Homo sapiens: one gene and its partner. The protein of the gene in region 2 interacts with the protein of the main gene of each other region in a pairwise test. Each region holds a gene or a part of one and is shown on either strand. Other genes may lie near its edges.

What was found. The genes of interacting proteins can lie anywhere in the genome.
Region 1: the proteins of WAC (region 2) and HTRA1 interact in a two-hybrid assay, tested with the Homo sapiens proteins (one study listed by IntAct).

The regions. Positions count from the first base shown.
Region 1 is NC_000010.11:122,504,779-122,514,242, forward strand, and holds part of HTRA1 (serine protease HTRA1 precursor), read left to right. Parts: intron 1-1,912; coding exon 1,913-2,107; intron 2,108-2,591; coding exon 2,592-2,624; intron 2,625-3,877; coding exon 3,878-3,992; intron 3,993-5,317; coding exon 5,318-5,375; intron 5,376-7,191; coding exon 7,192-7,287; intron 7,288-9,412; coding exon 9,413-9,464. UniProt on the Homo sapiens protein: Serine protease with a variety of targets, including extracellular matrix proteins such as fibronectin. HTRA1-generated fibronectin fragments further induce synovial cells to up-regulate MMP1 and MMP3 production.
Region 2 is NC_000010.11:28,620,118-28,623,612, forward strand, and holds the end of WAC (WW domain-containing adapter protein with coiled-coil), read left to right. Parts: 3' UTR 1-2,995; downstream 2,996-3,495.

The sequences.
Region 1 (9,464 bases), about 94 Mb from region 2:
GCGCTGAGCTCGCTGGTGTGCTGCTGGATGCTGATGAGCTTGAGGAGTGTGGGAAGTGAGCATGGGGCTGAGTAGAGATGCGGCAGGCCTGCACCTCCCCGCAGCTGCCCTGCATGCTCCAGCCTCAGGCAGCCACACAGGGAAAGGGTCACCCACTGTCAGGGCAGACCTTTACCATGGCTGGGTGACACGGGCTGGCTGTGGAAAGGTGTTTGGTGGTTCCCGCTGTTGGATTTGCACAGGCCCAGATGCTCACAGCAAAACCAACACCTAGATGGTGCTTACAGGAGCCAGCGGGTATTCAAAGAGCTGTTCAGATCTTAAGTTGCTTCATTCTCACAGTGGACCATTGAGGTAGCTGTACGTTAGTCCCATTTTCCAGATGAGAAAACTGAGGACCTGAGTGGTCATAAGCTCAGGCCCTCATCTAAATCACGCAGCCTGGCCCCAGGTGTGTGCTCTTGACCATGGACAGTGCTCTCCTGGTCCTCTTGGTATCTGTGATCTGAGGGACCTTCCTCCTCCTCAGTCTCGTATAGTCAGTTTTAGGTCTTGGACTCTGTCTTCATATCCCTTTCTCCCTTCGTGAGCTTTCTCACCCAGCACCTTCCTTATTTGGTGTGTGTTGGGGGATATTTGTGGTGTGGCGTGGCACTGTGTAGTGGATGAGAGAGTCTGTTTTTCCGATCCCAGTCCCAGGTTTCAAACCCTGCTCTGTCTCGAGTCACCCAGAATCTTGGACCCTCAGTTTCCTCATCTGTTAAATGGGCATGGTGGTCACCCCACCTCATCAGCTAGTGTCTGCTCCATCCCTGGTGGAGGAGATGACTCAAGTAACCCCTGGGTTCCACCTGCCCCACCCCACTGGTCCCCTGGCTCTTTCTTTGTTGAGATAGACGAATGTGAGGCTCTGGAGTTGCAGTTCCCACGAGGGCTGGGGTGGCTGTCTGATTTCTGGGCCTGGTCCATGTTGTTCAGGGCAGCTGCTCGTTCTAAGTGAATAAAGGCTGAAGGAACTCGGGAGGTCTGCTCGGCTCCGAGGAAGGCAGAGAGGGAAAGGGCCCCGATGCCTTCCCTGATAGAGCTAGGGAGGCCCTTCTGTGGTTCCCCCCAGCTCCTTGGCCTGGGTGACCCTGGAGCTGGCTTCTGTTCCATTTTGTTGTGCAGAGTTGTTTGAGACTCCTGGCTTTGCCTGGCCTTTGTGGGACGCTGGAGATCAGGGCTTCTGGAGTTGGCCAATTAGCCTGCCCAGACCAGGAAGCACAGGTGGCTGACAGAGGGCCGTTTCAGGAGAGGAGAGACAGCCTACCTATTCGGTCTTGCTGTCCCCATGCTCCATCCCTGCCCCTGACCAGTGTGGCCCTGTACTCAGCATAGGCGTGCACCTGAGTCAGTACAGTTCCCTGCCCGCAGAGCACCCCAAATATTCCAGGCCTCAGGACGGATGTGCACATGATGAGTCGGGGCAGGTTTCACTGCCTGTAGCTTGGGATCCTTCCCTGGGGCTTGGTTCTCTAGGGCCATCCCCAGCAGTCTCACCCCAAACCCTAAATTCATGTTGTCTTCCTCTGTCTCTTGGCCTCAAGGTTTCAGAGTGAGTCTGTGCTGATAGCTTCAAGATGTGATGAGACCCCGACTTGGCCTCCAGTTACCTCCCCACGGTTTCCTTGGTGTGTGTGTGGCTTCAGTGTTCACTGGCTCCCGCACGGCTTGCAATGTGTGGATTACGGGTGGGAGGGAAATCCAGTCCTGCCCGCAGCAAAGGGATGTTAGTTGTGAGCTCAGTTCCCCACCGGGCCTGGTGTTTCCAAATAGCCCGTCACTGTCCCTGCTTGGTTTTCCATGATATCTGTGCCTTTACCTATTTGGTTAAATTAAACCAACTCAGCAACGCCAGCCATTGTGGTTTCAGGGCAAGCTGCCTGTCCTGCTGCTTGGCCGCTCCTCAGAGCTGCGGCCGGGAGAGTTCGTGGTCGCCATCGGAAGCCCGTTTTCCCTTCAAAACACAGTCACCACCGGGATCGTGAGCACCACCCAGCGAGGCGGCAAAGAGCTGGGGCTCCGCAACTCAGACATGGACTACATCCAGACCGACGCCATCATCAACGTGAGCCTCTGTCCCTCTGCGGGTGGGGATTGGGGCAGAGTTTTGCCAGGGGGAGAGGAGTCAGCATAGGTCTTAGCCCCTGACTTTGTTGTAGTCTGCGTGAAGGGATGGAACTAGACCAAGCCATGTGGATTCTAGTGCCAGCAGCATGGCAGGGGTCACATGGCGGGGACGGTGACACCGGAGCAGGTGGACAGCCAGCCTCCTCCCAGGAGGAAGAAGTTGTATTGGGTGCTTTAGGGTGATTGCAGTTGGCTTCTGGGCTTCAGAGAGAAAATCTCCCTGTTTACGGCACCTCTAAAACTTTCTGAAAATTGTTAAGGTCATTTTTTTCCGGCAAAATATTAGGTTAATGGGAATGAATCTCAGAGAAGAATCGTGCCCCCCACTCTAGGCACCGTGCTCAGGAAACGACCAGGCAGGGACATAGATTGAACCATGTTATGACACGATTTGTAACCTTTTCATTTCTGTTTAATTGCAGTATGGAAACTCGGGAGGCCCGTTAGTAAACCTGGTAAGGTCTTTTAAACCTATGTTAGGTCATTTGTTTTTATCTATGTATACGCTGTTTTTTGTTTGTTTGTTTGTTGTTTGTTTGTTTTTGAGGCAGGGGGTCTTTTCAAACATAAGGTTGCCAAAGTGTATTATAAATTCCTTTAAAATGGCTCTGTAAATGTACTGCGTGCTTGCAAATGACCCTACGGATCTTTTCTGGAAAGAGTAAGGCAGGCCGGAGGTGAGGGTTGGAAATGTTATGCCAGAGAACACACTTGTGTCTCAGAGTTACAGGTAAACACCGTGAAATTCAGGGCCAATGCAGGAGTAAGGTGAAGGTCACTAAAAATGCTGGCCAGTCACCGAAAGCACCTCCTCCAAATTAAATCTCCTGGGCTGCTGAAGGAGCTGGCTGGGCTCATACACATTTTCTCTTGGCCAGGAATCCTCCCTTAAGGCCTGGCTGGAATGAGGAGGAGTTACCCACCCACAAAGATATCACTTAAGTCTTCCCTTAAATACTTGAGCAGAAAAAGTGAAGCCTTAGAACACAGACCAGCAGAGCTAGAGGGCAGCTCTGGGGCCATTTATAGAGGGCAGCTCTGGGGCCATTTATAGAGGGCAGCTCTGGGGCCATTTATAGGGGCTGTCTTTAGCAAGGCCCAGTGTGATGGCACCTCCTAGATGGTGCCTTGGCATCAGGTACTGACATCTCAGCACTCCTGGGAAGTGTGCACTTGGCAGCTTTCTCTTCCCAGCAGAGGGGCAGCTGTGCTCCCAGCTCTGTCCTCTGCCTCCCCGCGCAGCACTTGGGGATGGAGTGGAGATGGCTTTGCTGGTAATGAAGCATGACAGCCCTAAGCTCTAGGGTTGTTTCCCCCTGAAGTCAGCAGAGTCATCTTAAGATCATTAGACATGGGAGAAGCAGGAAGGTGTGGGCAGCCACCTAAAGGAGTTTGAGCCTTTGGAAACGTATTCCTTGTGAAACAGGAGCAAATCATATCGTGCATTTTGAAACTATCTGTGCTTACCGTGAGGTGAGCACCCAGTGCCGACCTGGAGTATGTGCGATTCTTCCACAGCTGCGCGTGGCTCGCGCTGCCTGGGTGTCCTGATGCCTCTCTCCCTGCTGCCACGGGGATCCCCTCCTTGCATCTCCCCACTTCGATCTCTGAAATAGCTCAGGGACTTCTTTCAGGCATATTCTCTCTGGGTGTGTACCTGCCGGTAAAGCTTCACGATTCAGTAAGCCGTGTCCTTCTTGCTTTTCAGGACGGTGAAGTGATTGGAATTAACACTTTGAAAGTGACAGCTGGAATCTCCTTTGCAATCCCATCTGATAAGATTAAAAAGTTCCTCACGGAGTCCCATGACCGACAGGCCAAAGGTAGGCAAGGCCCACACAGCCCTGGGGACTCCGGAGATGGGGCCTGAAGCTCAGCTGCCCTTTGGGACTTGGGGAAGGGAAAAGCGGCAGCCCCTAGGACTAGCCAAGCCGTCTCTGATCCAGAAGTGAACGGGAATGCACATTACTAAATCCCTCGCAGAAGGTCACAGACATTTCACCATTTTTGTCCTCTGATCATGGCAATGTCACTTGAGTCAGTCTAATATGTACCAGGCATGATCCTAGGTGACTTGTGTACATTATTTCACTTTCTTTATGTATGTCACTTAATTCTTTTGCCCTATCAGTTAGGAATTACTAGTCCCATTTTGCTGATGAGAAAACGGTTCAGGGAGATCATTCTGCAAACGTTTATTGCCCCATCTGCTCTAAGTCAAGCAGGGAGCTTGGCAGTGGACAGCTCAACTGGGGCCTGGGGCTCAACAGGGGCCTTTGCCGGTGTGACTTTTATGTTCTGTTGGGGGATGGGAAGGCTGACAGTAAATAATCAAACACATAAGATACTATTAGTGCTCCCAAGAAAACGGATCAGGGTGGCCGTCAAGGGAGCGACTGGAGGGGCAGCTGGTGGAGATGGTGTGGCCAGGAAATGCCTTCCAAGCTGAGGTCTGAGTGAGGAGGAACCAGCGGGCAGGGATGTGGGGGGAACACTCCAGAAGGAAAGACAGAGGACTCAGCATAGTTGAGTGAGCACAAGGCCCCTGAAGTGGCCTGAGGGCCGGAGCACAGTGACAGCATGGAGTTCCCCGGGGTGGAAAGAGGCCAAGGCCGGGCGAGCAGGCTCACAGCAGGCCGTGGTGAGGGACCTGGGTTGCATCCTAACGACATTTAAGAACAGGGAAGTTTATGATCTGATTGATGTCACTGAAAGGACACTCTGATGGCTGCGGGGAGTCTGCTGGAGGGGTTGCTGGAAGTTGGGGACCGGTTAAGGGGCTCTCCCAGCCATCTGGATGAGACATGCTGGGGTCTCAGACAAGGGTGGTGGCAGTGGAGGTGGGACAGAGGGGTCACATTCCAGATATATATGGGGGGTAGAGCAAGCTTGGGGAAGGGCCAGCTGTCAGGATGAGGCCATGAGGAATTAAGGGTCATGCCCAGGTACCTGACCATTAATTGAAACAATGGGACTTTCCCAAGGTCCCCCAGAGGGGAGGGGTCCAGACCAGGATTTGAGCCGCAACCTCAGTGTACCCTTCTGTGGCCCTTCCTGCAACCTGGGGGATTGGGCCCCCGGCCCCTGGTGTCCCCAGCACCCCCACCAACTGGGCTGACCTTCTGCTGTCCCTTTGTTGTCTCACCAGGAAAAGCCATCACCAAGAAGAAGTATATTGGTATCCGAATGATGTCACTCACGTCCAGGTGGGTAAACAGGATGCGTGTCTGTGTCTTAAATTTTAATAAACCTGAACTTCAGAAGGTGCTCACGGGCACCCCTGAAAGAGAAACCTTATGCTGCCTTAAGACGTCTCAGTTTCTGCTTATAATGAAGTAGCATCGGGAAAGAGGACAGGTCATTAGCCTTGGCCCCTTTGTTTGGTTTTAACCTGTGTTTTTGCATTCTGAGCTGGTTTTCTTCACTGGCAGCAGGCCCTCCGGTGTAGAAGGTTCTGCCCTCCTCTTTGAAGGCAGGCCTGAACAGTGTGTGCGTGGTGGGGCTGTTGATTCACTCTGGCTCACGTCTTCCTTACCCCACATTCTGTTGAAACCCACATTCCAGGAGGGCCCCAAGCCCCTCCCGCAGCTCTAGGCACTCTGCTTTCGTTGCTCTGCAGCTCGTGGGCCGCGGCTCCAGGAATGCCAGGGCAGGTCCAGCGCAGGGAAGTGAATGACTGATGTGCTTGTTTTCCCCGAGCTGGTGGAATTGCGGCCTGTGGTTGGCAGGCTCATGGCATCCTGGTGTTCTAAACTGGATGAAAAATTCTGGTGTAATCTCATGAGTCCTGGTAGTAGACTCACCTGGCATGGCTAAAACTGTCAGAGGTAAAGTAGGTAAAGACTAGAATATAGTAACAGATAGATTAATGTGTTCATTACTATGATGAATTAATGATTCACTCACTGTGAAAGTATTAATATATTTTGATACATGTTATGAATGGTGGTCCCTTTCTTAGCACTCCAGAAGATGGAGCCATTTGTCAAGGTTAAAGTGTCCCCTCAGTTGTTTGCCTTTGGAACTACGAGGTGTAGGGAAAGATGGTAAGCCCTTGGTGCCCAGCTTCCTGGGTTCCTGTCCCTGCTCTGATATGTCCTGCCTTGTGACCTTGGGAACGATATGACCCCTGAGTGCCTCAGTTTCCTCCTCTTCAGGATAGGGATGACAGCGCAGGTGCTTCTGATGTGTGGCCAGGCTCAGATCAGGGAGTGGTGGCAGGGGTCACCAGCCACAGTGATGCCAGCCACTATGTATCACACGTACTGGGCCAGGTGCCTTACTGGGATGATCTCATCTGATCCTCACAACTCATGTTGTAGGGTACTGTTATTATCCCCATTTTGCAGGTGAGGAAATGAAGGCACAGAGAAGTTAAGCAACTGTCCGAGGTCACACAGCTAGCAAATGGCCGAGCTAGGGCTGCAAACCAGGCCAACCACTGTACTTTACTGACTCCTTAGTAATAGCTACTATTAATTAAGAAATAATAACAATGATGATGGCTGGGTGCGGTGGCTCACATCTGTAATCCCAGCACTTTGGGAGGCCAAGGCGGGCAGATCACTTGAGGCCAGGAGTTCGAGACCAGCCTGGCCAATTTGTGAAACCCTGTTTCTACTAAAAATATAAAAAATTAGCCGGGCTTGGTGGCAGGCACCTGTAATCCCAGCTACTCGGGTGGCTGAGGCAGGAGAATTGCTTGAACCCGGGATATGTAGGTTGCAGTGAACTGAGATCGTACCACTGCACTCCAGCCTGGGCGACAGAGCAAGACTCTGTCTCAAAAAAAAAAAAATAAATAAAAAAAATAAATAAATAATAAAGCACTTTCCTTGCTGTTACCAAGTAAATCTTTGACTCTGGTAGACAGGCAATTTTAATTTTAAAATAGGATCAGAATTCCTGGAGGAATTTTACCTTAGACCTAAGGAGAAGACGGGAACTGGTGAGAGCTGAGTTTTGCGTGAGGAAGGCCTGGTGTTTCTTCACACTAACACGGGTGCTTTTTCTCTGGAGCAGCAAAGCCAAAGAGCTGAAGGACCGGCACCGGGACTTCCCAGACGTGATCTCAGGAGCGTATATAATTGAAGTAATTCCTGATACCCCAGCAGAAGCGTGAGTTGGAGTCGTTTTCTCTTTTCCCAATATTCTTGTTGTTCCTGTGGGGGTAGCAGGAAGAGGGAGCGCTGTTCCTTTTCTACTGGCTCAGATGATTATGTTGATCCTTGACAGACGTGGTCGGACGTTGCTTGTCATTCCTGCTGGCCAGGCCTTCCGACCTGGCTCGGCTCGGGACTCATCCATAGGAGGGTGCCTTCTGTCTTCAAAAGTCCTTGCTCCACGAGGACCCTCCAGATGGACAGAGCAATAGCAGACTCGTAATGAGTCTCTGAGATGGCCCGGCTGGCCAGAGAGAGGGTTTCAGGAACAGTGTCCCCAAGCCCTCACTTGGTGGTCCTTTTCTAGGCTTCAGGACCCTTCTCTTCCTGGAGTCTTCCAGAATGTCTCTGACAATTAGGCCCATACCTGTCAACACCTCCAGAAAAATAACCCAAGTGATATCAAAGTAACATGACAAGAAGTAGCTCAACCATCCATCAGGGTTTGTTACCTGTATTGGCGGAATATCCAGAGAAAAGTGCGAGACCAGGGACCAGCAAATGTGCCTTGGGGGCTGGATCTGGCCCACTGCCTGCTTTTATATGGAGCTGTGGGCTAAGAATAGTTTTTGCATTTTATTTTTATTTTTACTTATTTTTTATTTTCATAGGTTTTTGGGGGAACAGGTGGTATTTGGTTACATGAGTAAGTTCTTTGGTGGTGATTTGTGAGGTTTTGGTGCACCCATCACCCAAGCAGTGTACACTGAACCCAATTTGTAGTCTTTTATCCCTCATCCCTGTCCCAGCCTTTCCCCTTGAGTCCCCAGAGTCCATTGTATCATTCTTATGCCTTTGTGTCCTCGTAGCTTAGTTCCCACTTATGAGAACATTTAAATGGTTGAAAAAATCCTGAAATAAGAATAGTATTTTGTGACATGTTAAATTTGTATGAAATTCAAATTTCAGTGTCCACTGTAATTTGGTTTATGACATCTATGGTGGCTTTTGTGCTGGAACAGCAGAGTTGAGTAGCTTCAACAGAGACCATATGTACTGCAAAGCCTAAAATATTTCCTATGGAGCCCTTTACAGAAAAAGTTTGCAGACCCTTGTGCTAGCCCATGAAGGACCATGACAGCGTTTTGACGCTGAGCTATATAAGAGCTACAGTTATAGTGGCAACCACACAAAGGAAGTGCCTCTTAACAGAAACATTCCGCCCACCCCTATAGGAACTGCATTCTGAGTTGCAATACCCATTATAAGCAAGTTGGCCAGATAGTGGCCAACTATCTGGCAGATATCTGGCCAACTACGTGGCAGATAGTACCTGGTACATCCTTCCCCACTTTGGGGTCAATCTTGACCTTTGATCTCCTTGGGGTCATAAAGCCACACAAGTGTTAGTAGGCATTTCTACAGTGGACACAATGGATGATTTAGCCTAAAAATCTCAAAAGGAGCCCAGCATCCTGGCACATGCATGTAATCCCAGCTACTCAGGAGGCTGAAGCAGAAGGATCCCTTGAGCCCAGGAGTTCGAGACTAGCTTGGGCAACAATTGAGACCCCATCTCAAAAAAAAAAAAAAAAAAAAAAAAAGAGTGGGGAAAAAAGAACATTATTAAAAAAAAAAACCTTAAAAAGTAATCCAATCTACCGATGGTTTATTTTTTATTTTATTTTATTTTTTTTGAGATGGAATCCCACTCTGTCACCCAGGCTGGAGTGCAGTGGCACAATCTTGGCTCACTGCAACCTCCACCTCCTGGGTTCAAGTGAATCTCTTGCCTCAGCCTCTGAGTAGCTGGGATTACAGGTGCCCACCACCAAACCTGGCTCTTTTTTTTTTTTTTTTTGTAATTTTAGTAGAGACGGGGCTTCACCATGTTGGCCAGGCTGGTCTTGAACTCCTGACCTCAGGTGATCCACCTGCCTCAGCCTCCCAAAGTGCTGGGATTACAGGCATGAGCCACCGTGCCTGACCCACTGATGGTTTGAATTATTCTAAGTTCGCCACCGTCCAATCCTGTTTGCTCTGGGCTTTTAGGTTCTAAGCTGTGCCTCTGTCCATGTAAAGTCAGACCAGGAGGAATGGAAACACGAAACATTGCCATTGTGTTTCCCTTTGTGTTGCAGTGGTGGTCTCAAGGAAAACGACGTCATAATCAGCATCAATGGACAGTCCGTG
Region 2 (3,495 bases):
CACCTGATCAAGAGCAGTGCTTCTCCATTTGTTTTGCAGAGAAATGTTTTTCATTTCCCGTGTGTTTCCATTTCCTTCTGAAATTCTGATTTTATCCATTTTTTTAAGGCTCCTCTTTATCTCCTTTCTTAAGGCACTGTTGCTATGGCACTTTTCTATAACCTTTTCATTCCTGTGTACAGTAGCTTAAAATTGCAGTGATTGAGCATAACCTACTTGTTTGTATAAATTATTGAAATCCATTTGCACCCTGTTAAGAATGGACTTAAAAGTACTGCTGGACAGGCATGTGTGCTCAAAGTACATTGATTGCTCAAATATAAGGAAATGGCCCAATGAACGTGGTTGTGGGAGGGGAAAGAGGAAACAGAGCTAGTCAGATGTGAATTGTATCTGTTGTAATAAACATGTTAAAACAAACAAAAATTGTTATTTTTCTTTTCCTTCGGTCAGTGCACATTAGCATTTGAACTACCTGGGGATTCTTTATCAGAACTGTTCTTGTTGAATATTTATACTTAATTGAAATAATTCCTTAAGGGAGGTTTTGTTTAAAACGTATTAACAGGAAATTGTGTATGAGATATTTAATGAAATAAGAAATTCAACAAGAATGATTAAGTCACTTCCCAAGTGGTTGTCATTTGTTAAACCCTGGTTTACCTGTCTTGCTATTATGACATTTCATTTGGAAGGATGTTTGTGTTGTAGCTAACTGTTCAAGTCTGGTGCTGACTGCTGTTCTTAGCCATCACAAAACGCTAAATTTGTGTAATTGGAGCTTCCTGCTGTTATCTGGAAATAGCAGGAAAGCGCAGCTTTGTATATTGTTTCCTAAAGTATATTAAAATAAAAAAAGAAACTATTGCTACTATAAAATTACCTTGACTTTTTTTTTCCTTTGCTGAAATATTAGTCACATAGCCTTAGCTTCACACTGCCAGTAATGTATCAAATCACAAGGGTTTCCGCATGAAAAAAATCTTTTCTTCCCCCACAAAAAAACCTTTACCATCAAAATCTTGCCATCTGATTTAGAAAGGTGTTTCTTCTTCTTCTTCTTTTTTTTCTTTAAATTGGTTTAGGGTTTTTTGGTGATTTTTTTTTTTTTTTTTTTTCTGTTGGGGCAGATAAGTGCTTCCAAAACTGGCAGCACCAAGGGCTTATTTTTTATGTTAGACATCAATGTCAATGTTACTACATTCTCGGATGCTAACATAAATTTTGAAATTGCTCTTGTGCTTTAAGCATATATTGAAAGTATGGAAGTTAAATGTTCAGGCTTTTCAGTAAGCTCAAAAAGTTAACTGTAAGCGATAGTGTTGGTGTTTTCTAAAATACAAAAATGTTCCAGTGTAATTAAAAGGAATTAAAATCTTGAAGATATTTTCCTGTAATTTAAGGATACTTTTTAAATGTAAGAAAAGACATGTCATTAATTTATTGTCATGTTTATACCTCTGTGAGATTGTTAACATCTGCTGAATTTAACTAGTGCATGTAAATGAAACCCCAAAGAGCTGTGTGTTCAGCTAGAAACCTTACTGTATCTTTCCTGGAAAGAAGTGAGCAATTTGTTGTAATAGGCAAATGTTTCCTGATCAGATGGCAATTTGTGATTTAGGTAAATTTGAATTTGATTTGCTTATAGTCTACTGGTCTGTGTACCTATGTTTTGTTTTTCAAAAAAGTTTACATCCCTAAATGAATTAGTCACATATATTTAGGAGAAGATGCCTAATTTGGTATTTCTTAATAGTGAATTTTTTTTTTTCTTGAGACAGAGTTTCACTCTTGTTGCCCAGGCTGGAGTGCAATGGCACGATCTCGGCTCACCGCAACCTCTGCCTCCTGGGTTCAAGCGATTCTCCTGCCTCGGCGTTCCGAGTAGCTGGGATTACAGGCATGCACCACCACGCCTGGCTAATTTTGTATTTTTAGTAGAGATGGGGTTTCTCCATGTTGGTCAGGCTGGTCTTGAACTGCCAACTTCAGGTGATCTGCCTGCCTTGGCCTCCCAAAGTGCTGGGATTACAGGCGTGAGCCACCGCTCCTGGCCAGTAGTGAATTTTTAAACACAGAAAATCTAAAATTTTGTGGAAATATTTTAAATATTGCACCTTAATACAAGGTATCCAGCTCCTAACCTTAACTAGGGAATATCTATTAAAATAAGCATAATGTTCTGGACTAGAGTATTCCTTATCTAGTTGGTTATGGATTTGAACATGTACCTTGGTTTAGATACTTTGAAAATAGAAGTACTGAATAGCCTCTAGGGAACTTGAGTGGCCTTTCCCTCCCCCTGCCCCCCCCCCCCCCCCCCCGTTTTAAAAGATCAGTAGTCTCTATTCAAACTTTTAAAATGTCGTGGTATTGTAACAATATATTTGATGAAAGAAGGTTACAGACTCCCCTGAAGAACCAGCTTTCCTACGCTTTTTATTTTTCTAACTTGTCTAACCTGATTTTAAAATGACTGCAATTCCAGACTAAAAACATGCTTCAGCCCTGTTTCAAGACATTATGCTTCTTTTAACAGTCCAAATTAGTAGTTTTATTTTTCTTCTAAATCTTTGTTTCACACTTGTAAAATCTTGGGAAGGAGGTTCTTAAAACTTTGCCAGGAATTGTTACCCATTTCCAAAAACAGTTTATTATGTTCAAAAACCACCATATCTTTGAGGGACTGTTTGAAAGGGGAGAGGGCAACGCGGGAAATAATTCACTCTGCGCACCGGAACTATTGTAGTTCAGGACTTCCAGCTACTGTATTTAGATGTTGGGTTTGAATATACAGATTTCTTTTCAATACCTGTAAATATGGCTATATTCTTGTATTTGTACGGGAGTGTACAAAATGACACTGAAAAGTAATAAATATGTTTTGACTATATTGTGCAGTTATTTCAGAACTGTGTTTTGAAAGTCTTAGAATGCATAATTTGCATTTGAGTAAGGAAATTTAAAATACAGATTACTGCTGAGATTTTAATCAGTCGGTGTGTTTCAATAGTCTCTGAAACATTTTAGTGAAAATTATGACGTAAAATTGGGATTCTTTAGGTCCTGCTCTAATTTGCGGTACCCTCCTTTTCCTGATCACGACCTTTGATAGTGCCCTAAAGTGCAGCCTGTCTAGAAGATCTCATCCAGGCTCTTGGCTCTAAAAACCCCTTCATGTGCTACTTTACATCCCGATTATCTCCAGCCCTGATCTCTTTGAGTTCCCAAAAACAGTCCACTTAGATGCTTTCCTTAACACGGCATGCACTCCAAAAAGAACTCACGGTTTGTGCCTCAGATTATTCTCTTTTAGTTTTTTAGTAATTGACACCATCATTGTTAAAGTTGCCCAAAACCCAAATCAAGTCATCCTTCTTTTCTAACACTCGATATTTAATCCATCAAGACCCACAAGCTCTTTGAAAATGTTTCCTTAATGTTCACCTCTCTAGTCCAATCCACGATCATCTTTGAACCAAATCCCTGCCA